4 linked regions of the Homo sapiens genome follow. The protein of the gene in region 1 interacts with the protein of each later gene in a pairwise test. Each region holds a gene or a part of one and is shown in the gene's direction. Other genes may lie near its edges.

Evidence for each region.
Region 2: the proteins of MTURN (region 1) and ARRDC1 interact in binary tests that used the Homo sapiens proteins (3 or more experiments, as listed by UniProt).
Region 3: the proteins of MTURN (region 1) and SUSD6 interact in binary tests that used the Homo sapiens proteins (3 or more experiments, as listed by UniProt).
Region 4: the proteins of MTURN (region 1) and PLEKHB2 interact in binary tests that used the Homo sapiens proteins (3 or more experiments, as listed by UniProt).

Annotation. Positions count from the first base shown.
Region 1 is NC_000007.14:30,144,805-30,152,100, forward strand, and holds part of MTURN (maturin), read left to right. Parts: intron 1-1,372; coding exon 1,373-1,495; intron 1,496-7,296. UniProt on the Homo sapiens protein: Promotes megakaryocyte differentiation by enhancing ERK and JNK signaling as well as up-regulating RUNX1 and FLI1 expression. Represses NF-kappa-B transcriptional activity by inhibiting phosphorylation of RELA at 'Ser-536'.
Region 2 is NC_000009.12:137,600,637-137,608,722, forward strand, and holds the start of ARRDC1 (arrestin domain-containing protein 1), read left to right. Parts: upstream 1-5,049; 5' UTR 5,050-5,081; coding exon 5,082-5,199; intron 5,200-8,086. UniProt on the Homo sapiens protein: Functions as an adapter recruiting ubiquitin-protein ligases to their specific substrates. Through an ubiquitination-dependent mechanism plays for instance a role in the incorporation of SLC11A2 into extracellular vesicles.
Region 3 is NC_000014.9:69,698,380-69,705,675, forward strand, and holds part of SUSD6 (sushi domain-containing protein 6 precursor), read left to right. Parts: intron 1-5,015; coding exon 5,016-5,213; intron 5,214-6,224; coding exon 6,225-6,363; intron 6,364-7,296. UniProt on the Homo sapiens protein: May play a role in growth-suppressive activity and cell death. May be involved in the production of chemokine molecules in umbilical vein endothelial cells (HUVECs) cultured in THP1 monocyte LPS-induced medium. Plays a role in preventing tumor onset.
Region 4 is NC_000002.12:131,100,128-131,108,371, forward strand, and holds the start of PLEKHB2 (pleckstrin homology domain-containing family B member 2), read left to right. Parts: upstream 1-5,208; 5' UTR 5,209-5,271; intron 5,272-8,244. UniProt on the Homo sapiens protein: Involved in retrograde transport of recycling endosomes.

The DNA of each region.
Region 1 (7,296 bases):
GGATATGGGGCCAGTGTGTGCTTGGCATGGACCATGTCTCCACATAAGTCTTCTATCCTGCTATCTGGCCGCTGCATCTTGTTCTTATCTGCCAGATGTCTTTCTTTCTCCCAGACCTCAATACTTTTTTTTTTTTTTTTTTTTTTTTGCCAGTGTTTAGCCATCCTGGATCCGTCCCCACTAAAGAGTGATTCTTGGTACCTGACAGATACTCTGATGTTACCCTGGAAGCCCCGTGTCCCTGACTTGCTTAGATATGCAGGGCAGGGTATTCTGCATTAAGAATGCTCAAACCTATTTCTTGGCCTTGTTCCAGGTCTTTGAACATTTATGAGAGAGGCTTGCCTAGTCTTAAAGATGTGCTAAAATGGATATCCTCACATGGAAAAAAGCCTTACCCAGTCTTCAGAAAAAATAAAACCTAGACTGGGCATGGTGGCTCACGCCTGTAGTCCCAGCAATTTGGGAGGCTGAGGCAGGTGGATCGAGACCAGCCTGGGCAACATGGCGAAACCCTGTCTCTACCAAAAATACAAAGAATTAGTCAGGTGTGGTGGTGCGCACCTGTAGTTCCACCTACTTGGGTGGCCAAGATGGGAGGGTCACTTGAATCTGGCAGGAAGAGGTTGCAGTGAGTTAAGATCATGCCACTGCACTCCAGCCTGGGCAACAGAGCAAAACCCTGTCTGAAAAAGAAAAAGAAAAAGAAACAAAAAATCTAAAACCGATCTCCTCTTAGTATGTGTTAGATTGTGAAATGATGCTTCGGTATGATGTCCTTTTAAAGCATTTTAGGGAAGGGAAGTTTTCAGAAAGCCTTTGTTTTCCAGTGACATAGTGGTGACTTGGTGGGTTCTCTTAAGTTATTTGCATTTGGAAGTAAATTTACCACCACGCCTACTCACAGGCCGATCTGGGTAAAGAATGTCTTGTTCCAAGTTAATGCTTACAAACTATGCTTAATTAATCTTTCAGCCGTAGCTGAAAGCAAAGTTAAGGATTTTGAAGGCAAAGGCTCTGGTTTCTCCTTCCCCATGTCTGAAAACCGCCCTTAGCCTGCACAAGGTGAACAGTGGAAATCATTGGTGAGGAATGGCCACCCACTGCCCTCTTTACTGTGTAGGAGCAGATCTGATGATGAACAGAGCAGGTGAGGTATGGACCAAAAGCTCGGGGGCTTCTATAGATTAGACATTTTTTCTTCCCTTTCAACGCAAACAAATCAAGAACGCATGTATGAATTTTACTGTAGAATGGAGGCCTTCTTCAAATTGATGTTATTAAGAAAATCTGCTTGGCTTTTCTGAACTTCACACTGAGTGTAGTGACTGTGTGTCTTTGTTTTCTCCTTCCGTCGCCCGTGGGCACGCAGCACGTGTGGAGTGAGAGCGAGGACTGCCTGCCTTTCTTGCAGCTAGCACAGGATTACATCTCCTCCTGCGGCAAGAAGACGCTCCACGAAGTCCTGGAAAAAGTCTTCAAGTCTTTCAGACCTGTAGGTGCCTGCTTGGCTTCTCACCACAGCTTGTTTTCTATGGTGATTGTGTTTAGAATAACAGGGGCGGTGGGGAAGGTGGGCAAAACCTGGGATGACTAATTGTTTTTCTCTTGTCTGTCCTGTGGCTTAGAGATAGCAGCCAGTATAGGGAGGCCGAGGGCGGGAGGAGGGGGACGGGATGTGACACAGCTGTTTGCTGCAGGGATGATGGTTATTTCTAGCATCACTTGAGTTGAGAATCCCTGATGGGGGGGGAAGCAAACAGATCCTTTATGAGACAACTGAGTGTTCCTGTTCTCCTCTAGGAGACTTGGAACCATGGCACTTGCAAGCCCAATGGAGGTTCTTTTATAATAGTGGGGCGTATATTTGGGGATTGCTGGGAAGCTGTATACAGGTTATATTAATACCTCCACGTTTGTGGGTATGGAAAAGGATGAAACTGGATACTGGCTCTATTCTTTTCTATTTTTAAAAAGTCTCTGTTATGAGCTACTGTTGCTTTGTTTTCCCCTTTTGGGATTTAGGAATGTGTATTTCTGTGGCTAGCTGACAGTCTGTTTTCATTCTAGCTGATAAACCTTTAAAATGAATGCTCACTTCTATTTTGAAGATTACCTACTTCCCTTTATCTTCATTGGAAGATAAAGTCCCATCACCAGTGTCTCAGTGTTTCCCCTAAGTTCGATTCCCTGCCCACTGTAAATACTGCACATGTTCAGTGGTATTTGCTAGAATTTCTATTTATTTTTCAAATCTGTTCTAATGCTGTCTCCTTCTCTGCTGCGTTTTTCAAGCTTGTCTTCTGTTTCTTTGAACATAGTAAGCTTGGTTGCATAGTAGACTATGTCTGATGATATTTCATTTTGTAAGTCTGTTTGGTCTTCTTTTGTTTCTGCTAGTTCTCAAACCTGGTATCTTGTTTCTCTGTGTGTGGGATTATCTTTGTGTGCTAGTTATTGTATTTGAAAGTTTACATGTAGGAATAAAGTGAGGCCTGAGATGACAGTACCTTACTCCAGAGAGGATTTCTGTTTGCTTCCGTCAGGACTTGGGGGCCTATTAGTCTGAGACACCTTAGCACAGTTTAAGTCTTGTGGTTCTCTGATGGCTCCCGGGGGTGAGAAGGCAGGATGCGGGTCTGGCCTCCTGTGCCTCCTCCTCGTTCTGAGGGTGTGGGCCTCTGGGGGCCCAGCTTCAAGTGGGGATGGTGTATAGTCTGCTCCTTTGGAAAACTGTTAGAGTAGCCTGAGAAAGCAGTGAAGTTTCTAGCTGCTGCTTCCAGGTCAGCAAATGCCCCCAGGATAAAAGCAGCTTTTTATGTTTGGCTTACCCTCTCCTGGTTAATATTTTATATTTAAGAAGGTATTTTTCATATTTAATTCAGCTTTTTTTAGTCATTCTCAATGAAAGAGTTGGACCCAGTCACTTTGTGCACCATTGTAAGAAATGAGATTTCAGTGGCTTTTGTCACTCTGATTTGCTTAAGCAAATGACAGAAATCAAATAGAGTGACAAAAACCACTGAAATCCCTTTTTTGTTTGTTAATTTTCTAAGCCAGTTTGGCACATTCAAAATAGATACTTGACTTAAAAGTACCAGTCTGTCCCACATTCATTCATTCAATAAATATGTTTTGGGTACCCACTGGGTACATGGCACTGTGTACTGCATTGTTCCTGGCACTGGAACTAAAGCATGAGAAGCTTAGATCTCACAGAGCCTGTGCTCCAGTGGGGGGAGACAGGATAGACAAGGACACACGTAATGTCGTGAAATGATGCTAGTAATTAAGTGCCAAAGAGAAAGGAAAGAAATCAGGGAATGGGGTAAAAAGTGTCAGGGGTCCTGGAATTTTTGAGTAGGGAACCAGGGAAGGCTTTGCTGAGAAGGTAACATTTGAGGAAAAACTTAGACTACAGAGTGGGCCATGAGAAAATCTAGGGGAATAGCATTTTCAGTAGAGAGAGCAGCAGGTATGAAGGCCTCGGGGTTGGACAACACCTGTGTCCAGGGAGCAGGAGCGGCCAGTGTGGCTGAAGGAATTAGAGAGAGGTGAGCTGGAGGAATTCCAGGAGTCACAGAAGGACATGGGCTCTTACTCTGGAGTGATGGGGAGCCCCCCAAGGGGTTAGGCAGAAGAGGGATGTCACCTGACTTCACATCTTGAAAGCCTCCCTCTGATGACTGTGTTGAGAACAGGCTGTGTTAGGGGAGGGACAGAGAGGCCATTGAGGCCATTGCTGTCATCCAGGTGAGAGATAGTGGTGGCCTGGACTGGGACGGTCACGGCAGAGGCGGGGTGAGGGGTTGGATTCTGGAGATACCTTGAGAGTAGACCCAGCTGGACTTGCTGGTGGATCAGAAGTGGGATGTGGGAAAAAGGGAGAGAAGGCTGACCCTGAGTTTCTTGCCCAAGCAGTGAAGGGAATGGCCTAGTCATTTACTGAGATGGGGAAGGCTGCGGGGGCGGGTGGTGGGGAGTTTGGGGTTGGTAATGTCAGAGCTCAGTTTTGGACATGTCAGTGTTTTAAATGCCTGTTAGACATCGAAGAAGGGAGATCACATTAGGCAAAATTAAAAAGAAATGGATTCCTGTAAATTTTAACCAGAAGAATACCCGTTAGCAACTGAGGTTCGCTTTGCAGCAGGTTTCCTCACAGGGGCTCACTCATTGACCTGCCGCCAGCTGGTCTCTGTGGGTGTCGTCTGTGGTGGCAGGCAGCCTCCCCTCCCTGCAGAACTGGCTCACCTGGGAAGGGGAGCTCCAGCCGGGAGTCACTGTGCTGTTTTTCCTTACCGAGGCTCTGGTTGTATTTTGGCAACCAGGCTAGCCACGTTAAATGAGGAAACAAATGCGGTCCAAAAGAAATCCGGATGTGCAGCTGAAAGCAGTTGGATTGGTTGAGGAAGTTCTTTCAGGTGGCGCTGAGATGTGTCACGTGGGCCCACAGCTTTGGTGTGCTGTTGCTGGGCTTCCAGGTTTCCTTTCTGAAGTGGAACTTTACCTTGTGGGCAGGGATGTGGCTCCCCAGGTGAGGAGGCCTTGACGTGGCACAGCATGCCCTTTGGTGAGGAGGTTTGTGGGCTGGGCCGCCCTCTGGCAGGGCCGGTTTACCCCTGAGGGCAAGGCTGGTGGGAGGCACCTTCCCGGACTGGTAAAGATGAAGTGCTGAAGGCCTCAAGTTTCTCCCAGTCAGGATGCGCCCCAGACTGAATGAGAGGGAGCGTCACAAACCCGAATAAAGGACCACAGAGATCCCTGGAGAAACTTTGACACTCTCCACCTCCACCAAATAGAGCACTGCTTCCCAATGGCACCATTTATCTGTTTGTTTTACGTAAGGGAGGTTTGTTACAGATAAGACATAGGTAGGGGTTTTGTTGCTGTCATCACAGTTGAACGTATTTGTTGAAACGCTTACCCAAATGCTACAGGTTATCAAGTGGGTAAAACCAGCACATCATTTCCCTGAAAATACATGGGAATCTGATCAATCCATGCAGCTGCTTTTTTGTTTATCGTGGGCCAGCCCCAGGAGGAGTGTTTTTACCTTCATCTTAGAGCAGTCCCCTGCTCTGCCTACTGCACTCTACTGGTTCTTGGGAGAGCTATTTCTGTGAGCATGTTCTGCAGGGGGTTGCTTGTCATCTCTTAACCCAATTATGAGGGAACAGGTACTACAGTCATGAAGAACCCAAGGTCTGTTGTCAGGCTACCCGGATTTAAGTCTCAGTTCTACCACTTGCTGGCTGTGTGACCTTAGACAAGTTACTTAACCTCTCTGTTTCTCAGTTCATTTGTAAAATTAGAAAATTAATGATGATAGTTCCCTTAGGGTTGCAGTGAAGATTAATGGAGTTTTTGTTGGGTACTCAGTGCAGTGCGTTATCCACGGTAGGCACTAAGTCAATGTTAGTATGATGTGGATAGGATGAGGATACTAGACAAAATACTGTGGAGAAGTGAGCAGGTTACCGTTGGGGGGAACCTTAGATTATTGGTGGAGAGAGAAAACAATTTGCTAAGTGATTTCAACATGAAAAGGCATTAGAAGGGTAAGTCAAAAGTTTATCAACATTGGTTTTGGTAAAATTACAAGCATTCACTGAGTACCTGATCCACACGACTCACTGTGCTAGAGGCTAGGACTCCATAGAGGACCAGTGGATGCACCTGTCCTCCCAGAGGGGCACGTGGCCAAAGCGCTCAGGGTTATGGATGATTTTTTATTTTCTTCTTTTCCACATTTTCTAAGTTTTCTATGATCACATTATCAGAAAATATATTTTTTAATGAAACTGTGGCTTCCAGCGTATTCGAAGGGCTAGGAGTATCAGTGTGAGCAGGCTCATTGAGGAACAAAGCCAGGCAGTGGCTTCATGAGGAGGTGGGACTGAAGAATAGCCGGACCTAGACGTGCTCAGAGCAGGGGCAGGGCTGGCCCAGGAGGAAGTCCAGGAAGCGTCCATCTTGGCTGCCTCAGCTCCGTTTCCTTAGAAATGGCTCCATGTGGTGGAAGGTAGATCGGCTCTGCCCTGTTTTGCTCCCATGCTGTGTGGCCTCTAACAGGTACACTTGGCCTCAGTGTCCCCAGCTTTAAAATGGGGGCAATACTGATTTAGCTGTCTTGTGGATTCATGGGGAACTTTGAAGTCAGACTGAGAACCCAAAGGATTGTCAAAACCCAGACACTCTGCTAAATTTAGTCTCAGTTTCTGGCTCCTAACAGGTATTAGGAAATGTTTATTGGATGGGTAAATGACTGTGGATGCAGCCGGCCACCTTCCCTCGAGTGACCCACATTCTACTCCACTCCAGTGACCTCCTACTTGCTAATGTTGATTGCTCAGAGAGGTATGATTTTTACCTATTTTTTCTTGCTACTGGCATGTCGTATCCAAATGGCACATGTATGCACATGACAATGCCAGGCAGGCTGTTGTTGGCATCCACGAGCAGGTACTGCTACTTGTAGTGGTTTCAGAAACCCCCATCAATCACTTTGGTAAGTGTGAGTTGGATAATCGTCAGAACCTTGCATTTTTCTTAAGTGACCCTCCATTGACAGTTGCTGGTCATACACGATTGAGCTGGAGAATGAAACAATGGTTACGGACCTAAATAATGGTGATCATGCCGTTCAGTTTTCCCCACCATCTTTTCATGTTTTATATTTAGTGTCAACTGACAGACTTACTGCTGGGTAGAAAACAGTTTACAAGAGAAGAAATAGCCTACTATTTCCAATTTAGCAGTGAAACTAGACTTTATCTTTGCCCTTTCGAATTCTCTCAAAGTGTTATGGGCTTAACAAGGAACTATTGCTTCCTCGAGTGTGTTCTTCTCCTTACCAACGCTGTGGACATTAGGGTCCTGAGTCCCCTATTGCTCTTGCAGTTTTTTGTGCTGTTTGGTTGTTGTTGCTTCCATGGCCCGGCCTGGAGTTGGGTCCTGTGGTCCTTGTAGATTCTCACTCAGTTGGCCCAAGTCCTCTCCTGGGCTTGCTGTGTGACTCTGCGTTTCTTCTCTCAAGAAAGAGACATTTCTGCCAGAAAAATCCCCCTAATTCTGGTTCACTGGCATAAGCAAGATTGATATTTTCAGTTTGCCACAAGTGGCTGGAGAGCTGCGGCTTAAATCCCACAGGAAAATCCTGTGTCCCAGAAAAAGTCCAATTCTTGCCTCTACTCATGGAGTCTGGTCAAGAGCCTGGAAAAGAGAAAGAATCCACCTGTCAGAAGCTGCCTGGGTGGATCAGGGAAAGTCTGATGAGAAAAGATTATGCACACATGT
Region 2 (8,086 bases), on another chromosome or scaffold:
ATGGCAAAACCCCGTCTCTACTAAAAATATGAAAATTAGCTGGGCATGGTCATGGGTGCCTGTAGTCCCAGCTACTGGAGAGGCTGAGGCAGGAGAATTGCTTGAACCCAGGAGGTGGAGATTGGAGTGAGCCGAGATCGCACCACTTCACTCCAGCCAGGGCGACAGAGTGAGACTGTCTCAAAAATAATAATAATAATAATAATAATAATAATAATAATAATAAACCACCCCAAAACTTAGTGGCTTTAAACAACTATGTATTTTCTCATGATTCTGTAGTTTAGGATGGGCTTAGCTGGTTGGTTCTGCTGTTGTTGGCTAGGGTGGTAGGTTGTGTCAATTGTCACCATCAAATTCTCCCCTCCACGTGAATGTGTGTTGCTCCTATGACTTTCTTTTTTTGTTTGTGTTGTTTGTTTTGAGATGGAGTCTCGCTCTGTCACTAGGCTGGAGTGCAGTGGCGCAATCTTGGTTCACTGCGACCTCCACCTCCCGGGTTCAAGCAATTCTCCTGCCTCAGCCTCCCGAGTAGCTGGGACTACAGGCACGTGCCACCACGCCCAGCTAATTTATATATATATATATATATATATATATATATATATATATATATATATATATTTTTTTTTTTTTTTTTTTTTTTTTTTTTTTTGAGATGGAGTCTTGCTCTGTCACCCAGGCTGGAGTGCAGTGGCGCGATCTCGGCTCACTGCCAGCTCCGCCTCCCGGGTTCACACCATTCTGCTGCCTCAGCCTCCCGAGTAGCTGGGACTACAGGCACCCGCCACCACGCCCGGCTAATTTTTTGTATTTTCAGTCGAGATGGGGTTTTACCATGTCAGCCAGGATGGTCTCGATCTCCTGACCTTGTGATCCACCCGCCTCGGCCTCCCAAAGTGCTGGGATTACAGGCGTGAGCCACCACACCCGGCCTAATTTTTGTATTTTTAATAGAGGTGAAGTTTCTCCATGTTGGCTAGGATGGTCTCGATCTCTTGACCTTGTGATCCACCCGCCTCAGCCTCCCAAAGTGCTGGGATTACAGATGTGAGCCACTACACCCAGCCTTGACTGTTTTTGTTTTGTTTGATTTTGAGATGAAGTCTCACTCTGTCACCCAGGCTGGAGTGCAGTGGCGTGATCTCAGCTCACTGCAACCTCCCCCGCCGAGCTCAAGTGATTCTCCTGCCACAGCCTCCTGAGTAGCTGGGATTACAGGCACGTGCCACCACGCCTGGCTAATTTTTGTATTTTTAGTAGAGATGAGGTTTCACCATGTTGGCCAGGCTGGTCTTGATCTCCTGATCTCAAGCGATCTGCCCGCCTCGGCCTCCCAAAGTGCTGGGATTACAGGCATGGACCACTGCGCCCAGCCTGTTTCATTGCAATTCTTCCAGTTAACGCAAGCTGTGGGCCAGCCTAGGTTCCAGGGGAAGCCCCCCGGTGGGAAGAGCAGCAGGGATGCAAAGGTGGGCGGGATCTTTGAGGAGGGACCACCACGCCCTAGGAAGGAGACTGCTGAGGTAGAGGAGGGTTTTGGAGGAGGAACCATGAGACTGACACGTGTTTACCACACTTTTCTTTTCCCTCCCTCCCTTCCTTTTTTTTTTTTTTTTTGAAATGTAGTTTCACTCTTGTCGCCCAGGCTGGAGTGCAATGGCCCAATCTTGGCTCACTGCAACCTCCACCTCCTGGGTTCAAGCGATTCTCCTATCTCAGCCTCCCGAGTAGCTGGGATTACGGGCGTGTGCCACCACCATGCCCGGCTGATTTTTTTTGTATTATTAGTAGAGATGGGATTTCACCATGTTGACCAGGCTGGTCTTGAACTCCTGACCTCAGGTGATCTGCCCACCTCGGCCTCCCAATGTACTGGGATTACAGGCAGAGCCATTGCGCCCGGCCCACACTTTTCCTTTTCTGTATGTTATTATGCTTTGACATCTTGGGGGCTTTACTAGTCAGGGAGATGCTGCCCCTTCCAGGGCTGGCTAATCCCCAGAGCTAGCAAACAACTTTATAAACACCAATCCAGAGCCCATATCCCCAGTCTCTTCCTGATCTGACTCTCACACCCCAAGCCAGCATTTCTCCTGCCCTGCATCCCCCAGGGACAGATACCAGACGGCTAGAGCCCCCTGCTGTGACCTAGAGTCTGCTGACATGATTCAAGCTATCTAATCCTAAACTTGCTCACACTTACCTACCCTGCCTTGTCCATTTTCACCCTGAGGAAAACACAAAAAAGGCTCTGGGTCATGCTCTCTCCTGGCTCCTCCTGACCCTGGTACTTCCCCTTCTGGCCCTGCGTGGCATGGCAGGGCCCCTCCTCCTGAGAACCACGAGTACTAAATCCTTCCTTTGTGGCACTTGTCTTCTAGTCTGTCACTTTACTATACCTGATTCAAACAAAACCCAGGTACTTTTAGGATATAGGGCAGGAGGCTGGAAGGATTGCCTGTGTGGATTCAGAAGCACTGAGTTTCCACACTTGGAGATGGAGGGAATGACAGTGAGTTAGGAGCTAAAATCACCAAGAAATGAAGATGCCGACCAGAGCGAAGGTGGTGCTGGTGATTCTGAGACCAGGAAGCTTACACATGGTAGCTCCCAGGGTGGAGAATGGCCTGGTAGTGTTAGGAAGGAGCCAGGAGGGCCCCAACCCCACCTACAGACCCAGAGGTAGAGGGATCCTGCGAAAAGATATCTCTACACCCGAAAGCTCCAGGGGAAGCCAGGTTTTCATGAGAGTGCAGCTAGAAGTATGCTTGGAGAAGAAGAGTCTAATGACAGGGCGGTTGGTGCTGGTGGTGGTTTCTGGAACACAGGATGGGTGGGAGATAGGGTCAGAATCAAGGATGTGCAGAGTCCTGTGGGGCTTAGATTGTGGCTGACCTGGGATAAAGGCCACCTGTGTTCTGTGTCCATTGTCTTCCATCTCAGTAGCTTGCAATACAGTCTGTCTGTCCCTTGCTTGAAACACTTTCTTTTTTTTCTTTTTCTGTTTTTTTTTTTTGAAATGGAGTCTCACTCTGTTGCCCAGGCTGGAGTGCAGTGGCGTGATCTTGGCTCACTGCAAGCTCCGCCTCCTGGATTCACGCCATTCTCCTGCCTCAGCCTCCCAAGTAGCTGGGACCACGGCGCCTGTCACCACGCCCGGCTAATTTTTTTTTTTCTTTTTGTATTTTTAGTAGAGACGGGGTTTCACCATGTTAGCCAGGATGGACTCGATCTCCTGACCTCGTGATCCGTCCACCTCGGCCTCCCAAAGTGCTGGGATTAGAGGTGCGAGCCACCGCGCCCGGTGAAACACCTTCTTTCTGACTTCTGGCATGGCCGACTGCCATTCGGGAGGGCTGTCCACAATCCTTGCCATCCCATGGCACCCTTCTCTCTTGTTCGGGAATTCTGCCTGTGCATAGCCTTGGCAGGAAAGTGTCTGGAGCATGGCCAGTTAGACCCACCTCCGGAAACATCGGAATCCTAAGGGAGTGAGCTGGGCCTGGGGCTTCAGGGCCTCTCCCAGCCTGGCCCGGGGGCCCCTCCAGCCTGTGAGCCCCTTTCTCTTTGCTGGGGTGCCAGACTCCTCCTCCCTGACCTGTTACCTTCTACCAACTAGGGATGGCAACATTTTAGTGCTTGACTCCCAGGCTCATGCACGGAAGTACTTGGTCCATTGGGGATCAGTGGCACCTCAGACTCTGCATGTGATGACCCTCCCACCCCCAAACCATGTGTATCTAGGTCCGTCCTCCCCATCAGAGAAGGCCACCCTCTTCACCGGCTGTCCTAGAAAAACTCGCAGCACTGGGGCCCGCACACCCACTCCGTGGTGAGCTGGTCCTTGTCGAGCGACGCCTTCCCTCTCCAGGACTACCCAACCGGTCTCTCCCGCCTTAGGTCCCCTGGGTATTTGAGTCCCACCCCCCGCGGCTCACTCTCTACAAAGGGACCCTTTAAAAAAGATAAATGGGAGTGTGTTCCTCCTGGTTTCAAGTGATCCAAGTCCTCGCCCCACCTGGCCCCCGACCCTTCTGCTGCGGACCCCTGCCCAAGGGCCTCCGCCCAAGTGTGGCTCCCTTGGGCCCACACCCCATCAGGCCAGCAAGGAGGGGGATAGCGGGGGGCGGGGCAGGTGCTGGGACTCCGGGCAGGTGCGGGGAAGGCAGGGGGCGGGGGGGGAAGGGGTTGGGCGATGCAGGTGTTGGGGGCCGGGACAGTTGCGGGGGTAGGCAGGTACCGGGAAGGCGGGAGGGCGGGCAGGTTCCGGAGGGGCGCGACAGGTGCTGGGACGCGAGGTAGGTGCGGAGAAGGTTGGGGGTGCGGGGCAGGAGCCGGGGGTGGGGGTTGAGGCGGGGCAGGTCCTACGCGGCGGAGCATCCCCGCCCAGGACGCCCGCGCGGCCCCGTGACGTTTTTCCGCGACTCGGGGTGAGGGAGACCCCTGGGCGGGACGGGCGGAGGGTGGGGGCGGAGGAGTGGGTTCTGCCCGCAGCAGAGTGCAGCGGGGAGACCTTCCCAGTCTCAGAGCTCGCCTCGGCCCCGCCCCCAGCCCTGCCCCCCGACGGAGACGCGGCGGTGACTCCCTCCGTGGGGGACGCACGGGACGCTTGCGCCTCAAGTCCCTTAAGCGGCGCCCGACGCAGCGCAGCACCTACCCAGCCGGGACAGGGCCAGGGCCGGGGATGGATGAGCGCGGCCGGGGGGCGGGGCAGGGGTGGGGCGGCCGAGGCAGGGGCGGAGCTGGGAAGGCGAGGCAGGGGCGAAGGGCGGGGGCGGGGCGAGGAGGCTGTCAGAGGGGCGGGGAATAACGAGGGGGCGGGGCCACACGGACGGATGGGGCGGGGAATAGGGGCTGGGCCGGGCCTCCGAGCGGCAGTCCGCGGGCTACGGGGCGGCCGGGGGGCTGGGCGGGGCCGTGGGGCGGGGCAGGGCCTGGGAGGGGCCGGATGGGGGTGGAGGCCGGGATTGGGACGGATGGGGGCGGGGCATAGGAGGGGGCGGGGCCGGGCCTCGGAGCCGGGACTCGCGGGCGGCGGGCGGGGGCGTCGCTGCGCGGCTGGCCGGTGAGGCCGCGGCATGGGGCGAGTGCAGCTCTTCGAGATCAGCCTGAGCCACGGCCGCGTCGTCTACAGCCCCGGGGAGCCGTTGGCTGGGACCGTGCGCGTGCGCCTGGGGGCACCGCTGCCGTTCCGAGGTGGGCGCGGGTCCTCGGGGAGGGCCTTTGGCCGCACCTGCGCGGGGCCAGGGCTCCCGGAAGCGGCTGCCGTCGCCTGGCCCCGGGTTGGGCCCGCGGAGTCGCTGTCTTCGCCGCCCGGGACTGCTGGGAAGCGGGCTCGGCGGCGCCGGGGAGGTCCGGGCGGCGCCGCCCTTCCGCGTCTGCCCTTCCTGCCCTCTCGCCGAGGGGCGGCGGGGTCCCGGCGGGGCCTGAAGCGGGTCCACTGTGGAGGACGCCCTGAGCGCGGGCGCACGCAGGCCTGCGACCCTCCCCGTCCGCGCTCGCACCTGCTGGGCTCCTTCCCGCACCCTGGCTCCCGGCGCAGGCGCTCCCGCTGCAGAGCCGCTCCTGGCGCGGGCGTGCGGTCCCGGCGGGGTGCAGACACCTGCTGCGGCTCCCTGCGCCCCCTGCCACCCGCCAGCAGGCCTCGCCGGCCCCCCGCCGAGGTGGACGCCTGGGCCTCGGGGACTGGGTATCGGGTTGCTGCAGTGGCCGCTGGCAGGGCGCCCTGGAGGTGAGGGCCGGCCCGCGAGGTGAGGCTGCCTCTGCCCGGCCCTTGGCTGTGAGTGCCGCGTCCCTGCCGGGGACTTCTCTACCTTGGCCTCCTGTGGGAACCACCTGGGCTGCTTGGCCTGTGCCACAGCCCCTGGACTTGCCGCTGGACCTTGACCGCTGGGCCCGCGCGTGGGTAACAGCACCGATTTTGTGCCTGCTGAGAACCCACAGTCTCTGTTCTGTCCTCTCAGCCTCCTGGGACAGGTGATGGTGCTGTGGCCCTGACCCTGCACCGCCTGAGGCTGTGGGGCCTCGGAAGAAGCCGGGTGGTAGGTGCTTCTGTCAGGCTCCTGGCCCCACTGGGCCTCCTGGGATGACCCCACAGCCTCCCTTCCTCTGTCCCAACCTTGAGTTTGGGGTCTGGGTGGGGGCAGGTGTGGCCGTGGCAGGGCAGAGATAGCACACACATCTCTTGGGTACAGGTGTGGTGTGTGGTGAGGCCGGCTGGATCCTGGTTGAGGGCTGTGCAGGACCCTGTCGTCCTTCCCCTGGCGTGGCCTGGGGTGAGCAGGCCATTGCTTACCACAGGGAAGGGACGGCCCCGCGGTGCGTGACTGGCCTGGGTGTGCAGGCTCCCCTGGCCTCCGGGTGGACGTGGTGGGTGGGTTGAATGCTCACGCCTGTAATCCCAGCACTTTGGGCAGCTGGCCCAAGAGCCGAGGGAGCACTGGCTGATGGTCCTACCTCACAGAGGCTGGTCTGAATGAGGGAGAAAAAGGAGGGTCGTGAGCTAAGGAGTAGGAGATGGGCCCTGATGGGCCAGAGAGCACATGATTCAGGCTGCTGCAAGTGAGGTGGGAGGGTGTACCGGGGCCCCCGGGGGTTTCCCCCAGCCCTGCCTGGGATGGGAACAGAAGGACCATGGTTTCTTTTCCTCATTCAGAGGATGCTTGTCAATCCTGCTAGGAGCCAGTAGGGAGGCCCTCAGCCCCCAGGAGGACAGCAGCCCTGCCTGGGCCCCAGAGCTTGCTCACTTACTCTGCCGATGAGTGTCGGTGACAGTCAGCACCCAGCCGTGAGGACACCGGCTGTCTAAAGGGCTGACGCGGAGGGAGGCCTGGGAGGGAGCAGTTTTCTGGAGCTCAGGCTGGCCCAGTCCAGGGCTGGGGTTCAGGCAGGACCACTTCTTGTTCTGCTGTTACTGGGATGGGCGACCAGGGCCGACAGTGGTTCTCGGAGCACTCATGGTGGGCCCGATGCAATTCTCTCCACGTGCCACGGGCCAGCCTCAGTTAACCCTCAGCGCCCTGGCAAGTGGCACGGTTGTTACTCTCATGATACAGATTTGGAAACAGGACTGGGGGAGTGGCTTACAGGTCACAGCTTCTGTGGCAGGCGTGAGTCCTTTGGGATGAGGATGAGGAGTGGGTGGGTCTTCATGGTCCAAGTGCAGGTGGTGCAAGGGAGGGGCTGCTGAACAGGTGGGAGCCCCAGCTGGAGAAGAAAGTTCCAGTGGTCACTTGAGAACGCAGCCCAGTCATGATCTTCCTTAGAGTCAGAGAGGCCTGCAGCCTCCAGCAGCTTGTCCTTGCTTGTGCATCTGAACACAGGAAACATTTTTTATTTTTATTTTTTTAATTTATTTTTTCGAGACGGAGTCTCCCTCTGTCGCCCAGGCTGGAGTGTGCCGGCGCGATCTCGGCTCACTGCAAGCTCCGCCTCCCCGGTTCACGCCATTCTCCTGCCTCAGCCTCCTTAAGAGCTGGGACTACAGGCGCCCGCCACCACACCCGGCTAATTTGTGTATTTTTAGTAGAGACGGGGTTTCACCGTGTTAGCCAGGAGGGTCTGGATCTCCTGACCTCGTGATCCGCCCGCCTCGGCCTCCCAAAGTGCTGGGATTACAGGCGTGAGCCACCGTGCCTGGCCAGGAAACATTTTTTAAACCTGCATGGGGGAGGAGGGACAGGGCTTGCAGGGCCCCTGCAAAGAGGTGCAACGTTCAAGTCCAGAAGGCGGAAGAAGTCACACTCTGACTAGGGGACTGCCACTGAGCCACTCAGTCCTGCAGCCAAGCCCTGCCTGGTGGCTTTCCTGTTGCGAAAGGCTCGGTTCCCTTCAGCGTGTTCTGCCATCACAAGCAGTCTGCAAGCTGGAAAGAAGAGGGAGCGGGGTCGTATGCCGCCAGCAGCAGGGAGACCCCTCACAATGGACCCCATGTATTGCTCTGGCTTCTCCGTGGGCAGAACTGCATCCTGTGGTCCTGCCTGATTCGATGATTTGAAAAGGCAGAAACATGGCCGCTGCCATTGGCCTGGCCAGTGAAAACGGGCTCCCTGGGAAATTCACCCAGCCTGACCTGAAGCAGTTG
Region 3 (7,296 bases), on another chromosome or scaffold:
TCCTACTCAACCCTAATCCCTTTGAGGCTGCATGCATGTCACACTGATCTTTATATTCCCTGCTTTCCACACCTTGTTTTGAAGGAGCTCAAGTATTTGTTCTGTTTGTTAAATTGAATGCTTTGACCCCTGGGGCCTTTCCTGGAGCTTATTTTGCTTTGCTTGTTTTGGAATGTTGTAAAAGTTTGTTTTGTTTTAATTTGCCTCCTTCTGAAAGGTTGGCCTGCAAAACCAACAAAACCAGGGAACCTTTAGAAAGGCTGGTGAGGGTCCTCAGCAGTTAGTTTCTGCTGAGGGTGTCAGGCTGAGGCGACGGAGGTGGTGGAAGTATCAGCTAGATCATTTTGCGTCTCATCTGCATTGTTACCAGGGTGGACTTTGACTGAATGCCTACTGTGTGCACTCCCTGTGCTCACTGAAAGCCTATGTGGCTGTGGGACAGAATGGAAAGCAGAGAGGAAGCTAAAGATAATTCATTGATTTTTTTTCCCCCTGTAAAATTGTCTGGCTTTCTCCTTTTCTTTTTAAAATTATGTGGCACTGCCACATCAGGTGAGTTCATTGTCTTCCCAGAGTTAAGTACAGAGCTTCCTTCTGCGAACCTGGAATTGTCAGAGAATGATCCTGGTGCACAGATCAAGACAGTTTCTTGCCTAGACTGTGGCTTCTGGAAGCCACTGAACAATTTCTTTGCCATGTGGGTTTTGCCTTTTTTTAGTGTTCTTCCCAGGCATCACTGAGAGGGTCCTCTTCAACACCTGCTGTTGGCCAGGACTCTGCTCTTGGTCAAGAGGATCATATTTTTTCATGTGTTCTTTTTCTTTTCTTTTCTTTTCTTTTTTTAAACAGAGTCTCACTTTGTCGCCCAGGCTGGAGTGCAGTGGTGCAATCTCAGCTCACTGCAACCTCTGCCTCATGGGTTCAAGCAATTCTTGTGCCTCAGCCTCCTGAGTAGCTGGGTCTAGAGGTGTGCATCACCACACCTGGCTAATTTTTGTATTTGTAGTAGAGATGGGGATTCACCGTGTTGACCACGCTGGTCTCGAACTCCTGACCTCAAGTGATCCGCCCACCTTGACCTCCCAAAGCGCTGGGATTGTAGGCGTGAGCCACTGTACCCAGCCTTTTCACATGTTCTTAGTGTCTTAAAATGACTTGCCTTTTTTTTTTTTTTGGACCCTTTCTTCTTAGGCATCCTTATTTCTTCTTTGAACCTGGAGCATCTTATGACATACTTCAGCTTTTTTCTTTTCTATGACCTTCATAGATGGGCATAAAATAATTTTTGTACTGAGTTTATTTTGCCATACTGAAGCGGTGTTGTTGTCTGGGGTAATATCTGAGGTTCATTGTCCCACAGCCATGGAAAATTAGGATGCAGACACACCAGAGTGAGGTTAAGAGTGGAAGTTTAATAGGCGAAAGAGAAGAGCTCTCTGCACAGAGAGGGGTCCCAGAGAAAATGGGTTGCACTTCTGCAGTTAAATGAAGAAGGTTTTATAGATGAGCTTGAGGAGACCATTTACATAGGGGACGAAAGATTGGTTGGACCATGTGTGCCATTTGCATAGTTGTGAAATAGCTGGCCGTCCCACCCTAATCTTTTATTATGCAGATGGGTTCTCTACCTGGTGGGCACCATGTTGCCTGGTCCTTACTGTACACGTGGTGACAAAGAAAAGGGAACATGGAGCCTCCACTCTGAACACACCTGGCTTCCAGGTGGCCCTTTTCTATTGGCACAGCTGCTGGCATTCACCTGTGCAAGCTTCCAGCTTGCTTATCTATGCAGCTCGATTTTTCAGGCTGCTCTTTGTTAGAAAAGAAATGATTTTGAGGCTGCTTTTCCTTAAAAGGGAAACCTTGCTGAGGACTCTTTTGCCGTCACTATCTGCCTAAATAATTTCTTTCTAGCTCCTGTATCAATACTAGGATTGCTATAATGTTGACATAATCTAAGGGGTCTCTCCTACCTCTAGTCCATCTTATATCAAATTATAAATTTGCTTTTCTTATAATGCTACCCTTCTCAAGAACCTTCAGCGGCTCCCCCTTTTCTTTGACTATAATTATAAATATCTCCTTTTGTAAGGAAGGTCCTCTACAAGATGGTTTCATCACTCTTCATGTTATTTTTTTGGACTTTTAAAAAATTACTCAACCCAGCCAAACTGGGCTGCTTGCTGTTCTCAGAAGTTAACCTACATTTTCCCACTTCAGTGCATTTACTTCAAACTATGACCTCCCTTCCTGATGAAGTGAAGCCCCATCTGAAGTGCTACTTCCTCGGAGATCCTTTCCTAGGCTCCCCTATTCCTGCTTTGAACTTCCTCTCTTGTGGCACAAATCACATTATTTGACATGTGTTAGAATAAATTTGTATATAGAGTATCTTTGGAAGAATATGGTAGAAACTGGTGCAGTGACTCTGGAAAGAGGAACCCAGTGACGGGACACTGTGCACCCTTTTTGAATTTAATACCTTGTATATTTCCCATGAGTCTGTTTTTTTTGTTTTGTTTTGTTTTGTAAAAGTATTTTAGATAACAAAAACCTAATCCCTAAAGCATTACAAGAAAATACTGGAGAGTATGTTTATAAACTCAGAGTAGAGAAAGAGTCCTTAATCCAGAAGCCATAAAGAGAATGATTTTTTAAATATATGTGTGCACTTAATGGTCATATCCCTATTTGGCAAGAAGGACCTGAGGTGCTTATATTTTTGTCCTTTTTCAGAGCATAGCACAGTGACCCCCTACTCAGAATCAGTAAGTATTAGTTGAATTGAAATTAAACTGAATTACAAGTCACTTCTTTGCAGTCCTCACTTTTTTTTTTTTTTGACTTATTATGAGTGCTAGGTGACCGCCAGGATCCCGCTCAAAGATTCTGTGGAGATGTGGGTTTTATGGAAAGAGATACCCAGCAAAGCAGGAGTGGCTTTAGAATCAGCAGCTCTTCCCCTGAGACTGTCCTTCCCAGCACATTGGACTTGTGTGTGGGTCCTGCCTGCTTTCAGGAGCTGCCATGGGGTGCTCAGCATTAATTATGCCACGGAAATGAACCAATTAGACACAGTCCAAGGAGAGCCAGGGAGTAAGTCAGGGAGATCTGTGGCAGGCCTGCTGCCCTGAACAAAAGAGGGAAAGTGTAAAGGCTAAAGCAGTTTGCGGAGGTTTCTTTGGAAATCTAGCTGGCCAGCGCTCTGAACTACTTGGCCAAAGTTAAAGAGCACCAGAAGGAGTGTTTGCGTTTTTCTTTCTCCTGTTCAAGACTCTGGTGGTGGAGGAGAATAGGGACAAGTTGGGTCCTTAGAGGGGACTTGGGGGGAGCTTACTGGAGCTCATCTCCTAGTTTCAGAGAAGCTGCCAGACTTCTCTGGATCCCTGTGGCACCTACCCAGCTTTGTTTTGTTAATAGCTTTTTAAAAATGGCATCTTTTTTTTAGTGGCATCACCTAAAAAAAGAAAAGAAAAAGTGCCTTTTCTCCCCATCTCAAGTGATAAGCAAATTGAGGGTAGGGAGCCATCATCTCTTTTCCATTTGGTGTCCACTCCCCAACCTGGCTGGCAGTCAGCTTGCTTAACAGCCATTTGTAGATTGGAAAGAAGAGGCATGGGTGAGAGAGGCTGTGAGGGCACAGCTGCAGGGTGGTGTGGTCTGCCCCTCTCGTGGATGAGAAACTGCCTTATCTTGGACAGTCAGGCACTGTGGTGTGACTCTCAGTCACTCCAGGCCTGTCAGAGGAAATGAGAAAAAGAAAACGACCGTTCTTATTCTCATACAGATGTCCTTGTGATATTCAGGATGGGGGCAGGTTATTTGTCAGCAAAATTGAATTTCCTTTGGAAAACTTTTGGTCTTTATTGCATTCATGGTTGCCTGGCCATTCTACCTCAGCCCAACATTCCAAACAGTGATTCTGTAGTGCCCCCACTTTTACTGTTTTGGCTGGTAATACCCGGCAGTCCACCACCTGGGGTCTTCAGTTTTGCAGTGTCAGTCCAGAGTGGAATCAGAGGTTGTCCTTTTCCTCCTCAGGTCCACTCAGACCTTCCAGATCCTCTGACTTACCATTACTGCAACTTACCAGGGTTCCCACCATACCTAGGCACTGCCTGCCATCTCCCTAACTGACCAGTTTCAAGAGGGCAAAGGGGAGGTAACCTTGACACCCATACCCCTTAAAGGCCATGCAGCTCATGGGGTAGAAGCAATGTCTGCTGGTGGAAAGAGCAGAGGTTTAGAATCAGAAGATTTGACTGTGACCCCAAGCCTGCCATTTACCTTGCTGTAAGCTTGGCTAAAAGTCACTTAACTTTTGTGGCCCTCAGTGTCTTCTTCTTCAAAGGAGAGTAACGATAGCTGTCTCACAGAGTTGTCAGGACAAATAAGGCGGGAGGTGAAGGTGCTTTTGAAACTAGGCAGTCCTGTATATCAGTGGAAAATGTGGAATTTATCATGGGATAGAGACAGGTGGTGCCATTGACTACTATAGTCAGAGAATGGAAGATGCACAGGGGGTTTGGGAAGCCTCCCAGGGAATCTATCAGAAATCCCCTCTCAGGCCAAGAGTGCACGTTTTTATTATACAATAGAGTCTTTTCTGACATTGATAGTGGAAACAAGGCCAACATTTTTCCTCCTTTCACTGTGATTTATTATGTGTGTTACAGGCTTTATTACATAATACAGGCTTTATTAAAACTATTATGTCTAGATCTCTATAGGTTCAAGACTTTAGAGTCTGCCGTTCATTTATGGATGGAATTCTCTTAAGGCATGGTGGGGAGGGAGGGGGAAATGTTGCAAGCAGCCACTTCCCCTGTTGCCAGTATACTTCCCCTCTGTCAGTGGCAACCTGAGTTTCCAGGGTTTGGTTAACAGTTCCTCCAAGGAAAGGGTTATTTCCTCCTCCTGTGTTTCCTGTAGAGGCCTTCAGAGCTGCGTCACTGAGAGCAGACTCCTACTGGATACCTCACCACTGTACCCCTGCTCTCTCCCTGTCTTTGCAGTGTGCCCCCTACCACCGGAGCCAGAGAATGGTGGCTACATCTGCCACCCCCGGCCCTGCAGAGACCCCCTGACAGCAGGCAGTGTCATCGAATACCTGTGTGCTGAAGGCTACATGTTGAAGGGCGATTACAAATACCTGACGTGTAAGAATGGCGAGTGGAAACCAGCCATGGAGATTAGCTGCCGTCTCAACGAGGGTCAGTCTGGCAGATGAAAAAGGGATGCTGCTGGGGTTCTGCTTTCTGTTAACTCACAGGATGCAAAGCATGCTTCCTCCAGAGCACTCTTTGCTGTGGTGCAGCCCAGCCCCAGTTGATGCTCTGCAGCCTCCCTTCCTTGGGTCTTCATGTCTTTGTGGAAGATACTTGAGGTTGCTGGTGCATGTCCTATTGCATTTCATTGAGCCATCTGCCCTGCTCTGTAAAGCCCGTTTGATGTTCAGGATCTCTTGTTTGCATGGCCAAGTGTTGGTGACCCTTGACCATGTTCTGCCCTCACAGTGAGCACAATGCTAATACCTTCTCTAATGTATCGTCCATTTCATTTTTCCTTGAATGGAGCTACAGACCAGCTGGACAAAAGACCTCCCACCCTTACTGCTTCCTCCTGTCTTGCATGACAGGAAAATCCACCTGCTTGCAGGAAAGTGTGTCATATAACCATCTTTGTGCTTCCCACTCAGGCTTCAAGACCAGAGCATGTTTAACCCATGACACCCCAGAAATGGGTGGGAACCAACCTGAGAGTTACAATTAAAGCTGTGGATCTTAAGACAAGGTTTTATTACAGTCCAGTTTCTGTAAATTAATCCTGCCACTTGGGAAGAACATAGGTAGAACTTAAGATGGTGGAATGACATGCCCAGTTAAATTGTCGATGTTTACAAACTTCAAGCTTTTGAGGATGGGATCAAAGTGGTTTATAAAGGTAAAATCTCTAGGGTTAAGTGAGTTTATGTGTCAGATGGACCTCAAAGATTGGAAGTGAGGGGAATTTTTTATTCAGGAAACAGGATAGGGAAATGGTCCTTTTCCAAAAGAACTGTGTATACATAGGTCATTCTAAGCTGTTATTCCTGAAATGACCCTGACCGTAGGATGTCTGTATTGCACCATTCAGGAGGCATTTGACAAGATCAGCTGTGGGGCCCATCAGCTGTTTTGTGTATTTGGGTACAAAACCCTTCTGATGATGGCTTGTTTTTATAGATAAAGACACCCACACATCACTTGGGGTCCCCACGCTGTCTATAGTGGCTTCTACTGCCAGCTCCGTGGCGCTCATTCTCCTCCTCGTGGTGCTGTTTGTGCTGCTGCAGCCAAAGCTGAAGTCTTTCCATCATAGCAGGTGAGTCCAGTGGCAGAGCTGACATGAGACAGGCAGGTGCAAGCATTACTGTGGGGGCCAGTCTTTGGTGGAGGGTTGCTGGTGGCCCCAATCTCTGTGGGTCTGTGTGTGTCCAGGGAGTGGGGAGGGCCCTGCCATGTGTCAAACTCCTAGATGTGCCTACCATTGTGCTTATTGCTTTGCATACATTATCTTAATCCTCATAGGAACATTGCAGATGAGGAAATTGAGGCTCAGAGAGGTTATTCACTCAGGGTTATACCTCTAGATGACAACAGAGCTCAGAACTGAGGCTGCGCGCGGTGGCTCATGCCTGTAATCTCAGCACTTAGGGAGGCTGAGGTGGGCGGATTGCCTGAGGTCAGGAGTTTGAGACCAGCTTGACCAACATGGTGAAACCCTGTCTCTACTAAAAATACAAAACAATTAGCCGGGTGTGGTGGCGCGCGCCTGTAGTCCCAGCTACTCTGGAGGCTGAGGCAGGAGAATCACTTGAACCCACGAGGCAGAGGTTGCAGTGAGCCGAGATCACACCACTGCGCTCCAGTCTGGGAGACAGAGTAAGACTCTGTCCCATTAAAAAAAAAAAACAAAAAAAAACGGAAATCTGTTCAATTCCAAAGCCATGTCATTTCCCCTACACCAGTCGTTCTCAAAGCGTGGTTCCAGCAGCGTCAGGATCATGGAACTTGTTAGGATCAACCAAATGAGAAGCTCTAGGGGTGAGGCCCAGTGATATTGTTTAACAAGCTGTCCAGGTGATTTTGATGAACACTTAAGTTTGTGAGCCACTATCCTGCACTCCTGGTTCCCAGTCCCGGCTGCAATATAGAGGCACCTGGGGGAGTTTAAAAACAAATATCAACACTTGGGCCTCCATTCCCATTCTGATTTATTTGGTTTGGAATGGAACCCTGGCATTCACTTTTTATA
Region 4 (8,244 bases), on another chromosome or scaffold:
GGGTTGAGGGCTTCGGATTCAAAATGGGAGGCCAAGAACTCATTTTGTCCCTCCATAGATGCCTGTGAAATAGGTGACAGATGTTCAACAGTAAACAAGAAACACTCCAAACTGAAGTAGCAGTAGAGGCTCAGGTGGGCTGGAGGAGAAAGGGCACTCACTTTCCTGTGGATGGTTGAAATAGGCAGAAAAGGCTGCAATCCAAAGCAGGGAGTGAAGGGGGAGAGAAACAGACCTGTAAACAAGGACATTAACTGCAAGGCTGCCTGTACCACAGCTGTGCCCCTTTTTATTTCTCCATTCTTGTGTACATGGGCAGCTTCCTGTTTATAGTGGGCAAAACCCCAACTACTATCCTCAAAAGAAATGGATTCCACTGTCTTTGGCCGGGCGTGGTGGCTCATGCCTGTAATTCCAGCACTTTGGGAGGCCGGGGCAGGCGGATCACCTGAGGTTGGGAGTTCGAGACCAGCCTGACCAACCTGGAGAAACCCCGTCTCTACTAAAAATACAAAATTAGTCGGGTGTCGTGGTGGGTGCTTGTAGTATCAGCTGCTTGGGAGGCCGAGGCAGGAGAATCGCTTGAACCTGGGAGGCGGAGGTTGTGGTGAGCCAAGATCGAGCCATTGCACTCCAGCCTGGGCAACAAGAGTGAAACTCCGTCTCAAAAAAATAAAAAAAAGAAAGAAAGAAATGGATTCCACTGTCTGAAGAAAGCCATGGCTTCTTAGTAGATGTTGAGGGCAAAATGAAGTAAAATTTAGGCATGCAAAAACTCATTGTTTCCCACCCCAAAAAGCAGTTACAAAGTTTCCGTATAGGAGAAGCAAAGGTGCAGCCAGCATGCTGGAACGGCTTCCTGCGCTGCACTCTGCATTGCTTGCCCCTGCTCTTCTCCCTAGTGCTGTGTGTCTGTTTGGGATGGACCTGGGTGTTGGTAAACATTGTGGGGCAGCTGAAATCCTACTGTTCCACCCTGGCTACTTTTATACATATAAAAAATTTCGGCCGGGCGCTGTGGCTCACGCCTGTAATCACAGCAATTTGGGAGGCTGAGGCGGGCGGATCACGAGGTCAGGAGATGGAGACCATCCTGGCTAACATGGTGAAACTCCGTCTCTACTAAAAATACAAAAAATTAGCCGGGCGTGGTGGCGGGTGCCTGTAGTCCCAGCTACTTGGGAGGCTGAGGCAGGAGAATGGCGTGATCCTGGGAGGTGGGGCTTGCAGTGAGCCGAGATCCCGCCACTGCCCTCCAGCCTGGGCGACAGAGCGAGACTCCGTCTCAAAAAAAAAAAAAAAAAACACAAAGAAAGAAAAAGTAAAGGAAGAGTGCCTGTTATCTCCTATTCCTTGGAAGCTCCACATTCCCAATTATGTGGGGTGTAGCAGGGGAGACATGGTATTTTACTTCATGTTCTATTTGGAGTTTTTTTTTTAAATTTACTTATGTTTTTGTATATTTTGTTTTACTATGTTGTCCAGGTTGGTCTTGAACTTTTGGCCTCAAGTGATCCTCCTGCCTCGGCCTTCCAAATGTTGGGATTTCAGGTGTGAGCTAATGTGCCTGGCCTGGAATTTCTTTTTTAACCACCAGAACTTCTCACTTTATTTTCTTCAATAAAGAAACGCATACTAGTAACTGGGCAAGAAATGGAGTGGGGCTTAGCAGCAGGTAATTTGGTTTGAGCCAGTTGAGGGCCACAGAGACAGGTGACTGATGGGTACAGAGTCCCAATGCAACTCTTTGAACTCTTGGACTTCTCCCTCTCAGTTTCAGACAAGAGGCTGCACATTCAGATAGGGGGCTGGAAAGCAGGCGTCCTCACCTGCACCCAGCCTTCTTTCCCCTGGCCTCTTCTCAATAAACATGAACAGGAAGCCAGTTTTTCTTTTCTTTCTTTTTTTTTTTTTTTTTTCTGAGTTGGAGTTTCACTCAGTCGCCCAGGCTGGAGTGCAGTGGCACAATCTCAGCTCACTGCAACCTCCGCCTCCTGGGTTCAAGCTATTCTCCTGCCTCAGCCTCCCAAGTAGCTGGGATTACAGGTGCCCGCCACCACGCCTGGCTAATTATTTTGTATTTTTAGTAGAGATGGGGTTTCACCACGTTGGCCAGGCTGGTCTCGAACTCTGGACCTCGAGCGATCTGCATGCCTCGACCTCCCAAAGTGCTAGGATTACAGGCGTGAGCCACCACGCCCAGCCCAGAAAGCCAGTTTTACTGAATCAGAAAACTTGTTATGGGACACTCCCTCCTCCAGGTACTGGAACGCCTACTTAAACTGAACTTTATTAAAATATTACTTTTTTTTTGTCTGGGTGCAGTGGCTTACGCCTGTAATCCCAGCATTTTGGGAGGCCGAGGCAGGTGGATCACGAGGTCGGGAGTTTGAGACCAGCCTGGCCAACATGATGAAACCCTGTCTCTACTAAAAATACAAAATAAATAGCTGGGTGTGGGGGCGCACACCTGTATTCCCAGCTACTCAGGAGGCTGAGGCAGAATAATTGCTTGAACCCAGGAGGCGGAGGTTGCAGTGAGCCTAGATGGTGCCACTGTCCACCAGCCTGGGTGACAGTGAGACTCCATCTCAAAAAAAAAATTATTATTATTTTGAGGCAGGGTCTCATTCTTTTGCTCAACCTGGAGTGCAGTGACACAATCATGGCTCACTGCACCCTTGACCTCCCGGATTCTAGTGAAGCTTCCCTCTCAGCCTCTCAAGTAGCTGGGACTACAGATGCATGCCACCATGCCAGTCTAATTTTTTTATTTTTATTTTTTTGTAGAGAAAGTGTCCCACTGTGTTGCCCAAGCTGGTCTTGAACTCCTGGGCTCAAGTAATTCTCCTGTCTTGGCCTCCCAAAGTGCTGGGATTATAGACGTGAGCCATCACACCCAGCCTTAAATATTACTTTTTCCTGTTGTTGAAGTGATACATATTCATGAAAGAAAACTTGGAAAATGCAGAAAAGTAGAAAAAAGAAATGTCATCCACAGTCCCATCACTCAGAGAGAATGTGTTAGTGTATTTTTGGATACTCCAAACTCAGACCCTGAAAGGTCCCTAAGACTGACCCTGAAGGTGGTCAGGGCTAGTATAGCCTTAATGAGGGCTGGTCAAGAAGCTTGTTGATGTCAGGCAATTTACCCGAGCTCATCCAGAAGCAGCGGAACCAGGAAGAACCCCATGTCACACAAATCTCTGAACTCTTGTGTTGACTAAGCTATAATATCTTGCAAAAGATGGGATTGCAGGCATCATAGGACTCCCTACCCTGCATTTTTTAAATTTTCCCCAGAGAGGAGCTGGGTTAAGACAGGGGCCCTGATTGGCAGAGTTTGGGGTTTTGAAGACCAATAATAATAGGGCTCTTCCAATATTTTTTTTAAGAGTTTTTCCCTTTTAAATTTAGATATAATTTATACACAGAAAAATGTACAAATCTTTTTTTTTTTTTTTTTTTTTTTTAGATGGAGTCTCTCTGTCGCCTAGGCTGGAGTGCAGTGGCGTGATCTCGGCTCAGTGCAACGTCTGCCTCCCGGGTTCACACCATTTTCCTGCCTCAGCCTCCCAAGTAGCTGGGACTACCGGCGCCCGCCACCACGCCTGGCTAATTTTTGTATTTTTAGTCTCTGAGTATCTGGGATTACAAGCGCACCACCAGGCCTGACTAATTTTTTTTTGTATTTTTAGTATGGACGGTGTTTCACCACGTTGGTCAGGCTGGTCTCAAACTCCTGACCTCGTGATCTGCCTGCCTCGGCCTCCCAAAGTGCTGGGATTACAGGCGTGAGCCACTGTGCCCGGCCAAAAATGTACAAATGTTAAGTATAGTGTTCAGCTTGATAAAGTTTTACTTACACACACGTACCCACCACTCAGATCAATGTATAGAACATTTTCAGCACCCTAGGAGTGGGGTTGCCAGGAGGCTCTCTCAAGCCTCTTTCCAGGCAGTACCCCTACACCACCCCCCAACCCCTGCTAGGCTGGAACGCAGTGGCTTGATTGCAGGTCAAACTTCTGGGCTCAAGCAATCCTCCTGCCTCTGGCTCGCAAAGCTCTGGGATTACTGGCATGAACCATCTCACCTGGCTAACATTTATTTTCCCTCTATTGTCTTCAGAAAACCCCCAACTTTTCATCTGGAATAATTTTAGACTACAAAAAAGTTATAAAGCTAGTATACCCTTCACACAATTTCTCCTAATGTTAACATCTTACATAACCATTATACATTTCTTATAACTAAAAACTACTATTACCTAAACTTAAATTTTATTTTAAGTTTATAGCCTAGCTACATCACCATGTTGCATATGACAGTGTCTCAGTTTTTTTCTTGCTTTTGATTACCTTGATAGTTTGAGGAGTACTGGTGAGGTGTTTTGAGGAATATCCCACAAACGAGATTTGTCTGATGTTTATCTTTCAGTTAGACTGAGGTCACGGTTTTTTTTTTAATCACATGTCAAGGGCAAGTGCAGTGACTAATCACTTTGATTTTCACGTGGAGTGGCTCTACAGCCCTCTTTCCACACTGTACTCTTGGAAAGGTCGTCCCCAGGCATAGGCCACACTCAGGGTGGGTGTGGACGGATTACCACACCCCTCTGGATGAGGTATTATTAGAATTCCTCTGCAAGGAAGATTATCCCTTCTCCCTCATTTATTTAATCACGTATTTATAGCAGCACGGGCTCTGGGCTGTTTTATACTTTAGGTTATAACTTAATGCAATGTACTTTATATTGCTGCTCAAATTGTCCCAGGCGCGGCCCCCGGAAGCTCTCTGGGTAGATCCCTGCGCCCTTGGACGCCCGGTCCTTCAGTTTTTTGAGCACCTCAAGCTTCTGGCCTACAAAACGCTCCCGGCTCAGCTGGAGCTTTCTGCGCCCGGGTCCTAGAGTCGCCCATTTCTCTAAGGCGCCTTGGCCCTATTTTTAGAGAGCGGTATTTAGAAACCAAGATTAGGGTGCTAACAATTTTTTTTTAAATTTTTATATTTTTAAGACAGGATCTCACTTTGTAACACTTCCTTTTAGTGGAAGCGCCGACCTCCTGGGAGACCCACGCCCCCTGCCGCCTTCCGTCCCGTTTCTCAGAAAACCACCCAGACACCCCGCCCCACCGGCCGGGGCCCGCCGCGCATGCGCGCCGAGGCGTGACGTCAGAACGGCGGCCAGGACGCCGGACGTGCGGCAGTTGCAGGCGAGCAGGCGAGGAATCGCCGTGGCGTCTTGGTGTTCTCCACGCTGGTTCGCAGGTGAGTGTCCCTGTTTAGTCCGGACGACCCTAGCTCCTTTCCCCTCTGGCCCGCGCCTCTCCAGATTCTCCTCTAGAGCTGCCCAGCCTCGCGCCCCTCTGAGGGGACCCCGCACCGCGCCACCTCCGCGGTGTCCCCACTCCCTAATTTTCCCTGAGGCTCCTGGCCACGGGTCCGCCCACCTCCCTGGACCACCCTGACCTTCCCCAGGTCCGCCCTCTCAGTCTCCCCTAGAGCAGCCCATTCGAGAGCCCTCCCAGTGGGCCCCCCCGGCCTCTCAGACCCCTTCCCATCGCTTCCCCGGCGTCCGCCTCCGGTCCTTTCCCCGAGCCCCTCCTCTCCGGCCCCGCGGACCCTCCTCCTTTCCCGACTGCAGCCTCCGCCTTGCATCCTTTCTGGCCGCTCGGGAGTGTCCCACATGTCTGACTGCCGGGACCTGCTGCGGCCCGCCGCCTGGGGTCTCCCGGCGTCCGATCTCTACCCCTGCTGCTCCCTCTGCTCCAGGGAACTTGCCTTCTCAGTTCTCCTGCCCAGAGGTCTCCCCTCCTTAAGTCCCGGGGGGCGTTGAGGCTTTACCCTCGCGGTGCGGTCCGCCCCCGCTGCATTTCACCTGCTCTTGGCCTTGCAATGTCTTTAGTCATAAGTGCTTGGTGTACCTTATCTTACATATCTCTCTTCATGTTTGATTCTGTTACTCAACTAGATTGAAAACTCCGGAGGTCAGGGATTTGCATAGGGATCCCCGCCCCGCCACCCCGCTTAAATCTCAAATGTAGACCGGTTCAGGGTGGGTGGAGGAAAGGAATGAGGTGGAGTGGTCACTGTAAAAAATTAAAGGAACATGGTTAATTCAAAATAATACTGACTCATGGTCTCAGCCTTTAAATTTTTAGTGCTTAGGAAAGGGTGGAACCACCACCGAGGGAGGAGGGCTGACAGCTGAGGGGAGGAATATTCCAAGGTCTTCTGTGGCCTTTGGTATGAACCAGTACCAATTCAGGAAGTGACTTGTCCGAAGTCACATGAGGAATTAGGACCCGAGCTGGCACTGGTAACTGCCTGTTTAGTGTGGCCCTCAGTATTTGTTGACTAAACTAATGACCAAAACATGTATGCACAGACACAGCTGTGCGTCTGTGCCCATGCAGTGGGTGTGTCTGCCTAAGGACCTGTGGGGGTGTGGGAATACTGCTGTGACGGTTCAATTGTGGTGCTCAGGAGTGTTCCCTAGGTTCAGAAAGTTCCTAACCCTGGGCTGGTTGGCTGGATATTGATAGGACTGGAGCTTGTCTGGGCTTCCTTTGTGCCTGGTGTTTACTCTCTGTGGTGGTGATCTCTTTACTCGACTCTTCCCTATTCGTACTGATCTCCCTGAGGACAGGAATCAAACTGTGTTGCAGGGTTTCCCTAATAAACAGCATAGTGTTTGGCACTTTGTAGGTGGTCAGTAAATGCTTATTGAAGAAGGCTGCAGAAAAGAACTCAGAACCTGACAGCGGTTCTTTGCTAGCATTATATTTTAAAGGCGGTGGTACATTCTGTAAGTAAATTTCCTGCTATTCTCAAGGACTGAGTTGATTAAATGTGTACAGCAGTGGTATAGAGAGGACAGATACTCTTGTGGTGTTACTCCTTGGGAAGGTGGAGGTTTCTCTCAGCTCTTTCTGAAAGCTTTGCTTATGCTTTTCAGCTTGCATTAATATTTTTGTTTCTCCTTTCCTCTGCCTGCCTTCTTACTGTTTGTCTAAAGAAATTAAAGAATTACCTTATTAATAACAGTAACTACCAAAAACTGCAAAACACACTGTTAAAAATGCTCCCAAAGTGGGGGCTAATTGACCCAGTTGTTTTGTTAGTTATATATTTGCTTCCACAGTGGATCATGGAAACGGAAAGTTGGACTTCCTTGCCTCTTTGCTTTCTTTGCCTGTCTGCCCTTTGATGGTGCTTGTATTAGGCTTGTTGTTAAGAAGTGGTTCCCAACTGGAAATGGCCAATGCCACGTGGGAACTGACCTCTACATGTTGATGGGTCACCCAACCTTCTTTCCCTTCTGTTTCAGAATGTACCTGTGACATCTCTTTGACTCTCCACTGTTGCCCTTGAAGAACAGAGATGAGTTTTCTTCCTTTTTCATAAGGAAGCCACTTTTATAGCGAAAGAGAGCTGGAGAACTGGGATATCATGAGGAGTTGTAGACAGTTAAACCTGAATTCTAGCTTTTGGAACAAAATAGTAATGTAATTGTAGCAGTTCTCACTTTTTTATTTTTTATTTTTTTGAGACGGAGTTTCACTCCTGTTGCTTAGGCTGGAGTGCGATGGCGCAGTCTCGGCTCACTGCAACCTCCGCTTCCCGGGTTCAAGGGAGTCCCCTGCCTCTGCCCCCCAAATAGCTGGGATTACAGGCGTGCGCCACCATGCTCGGCTAATTTTTTGTATTTTTAATAGAGATGGGGTTTCACTATGTTGGTCAGGCTGGTCTCGAACTCCTGACCTCAGGTGATCCGCCTGCCTTGGCCTCCCAAAGTGTTGGGATTATAGGCGTGAGCCAACGCGCCTGGCCAATTCTCACTTTTGGACCATCTACTACAGGGCTGTTTGGACATACCTCCTTTAATTGTCACAGTAACCCCATGACGTAATTGGTTGTGCCTGGTCATACAGGTAAGAAAACTGAGGCTTAGAGAGGTTTAGAATTTTGCTGAAGGTCATACTAGTGAGTAGAAGGCAAAGTAGGCTTCAGGCTTAGAACTGTCAGATTCCAAAGGCAGTATTTTTTGTCCATCTGTTGTCTGTTTCGATTCAATGCTTTCAAAGAGATACAAATTCAAATTTAAAATAATTTAAATTGTTGAATATGGCTTACATTTTAAAGCTTTGCATAGGTTTTATTGGCATAAAAATAATGTTCTTTTGCAGCTAGTTTGCTGGTGTTTTATTCTCTAGAGACCAACAGCTAGGGCTTAGTGTT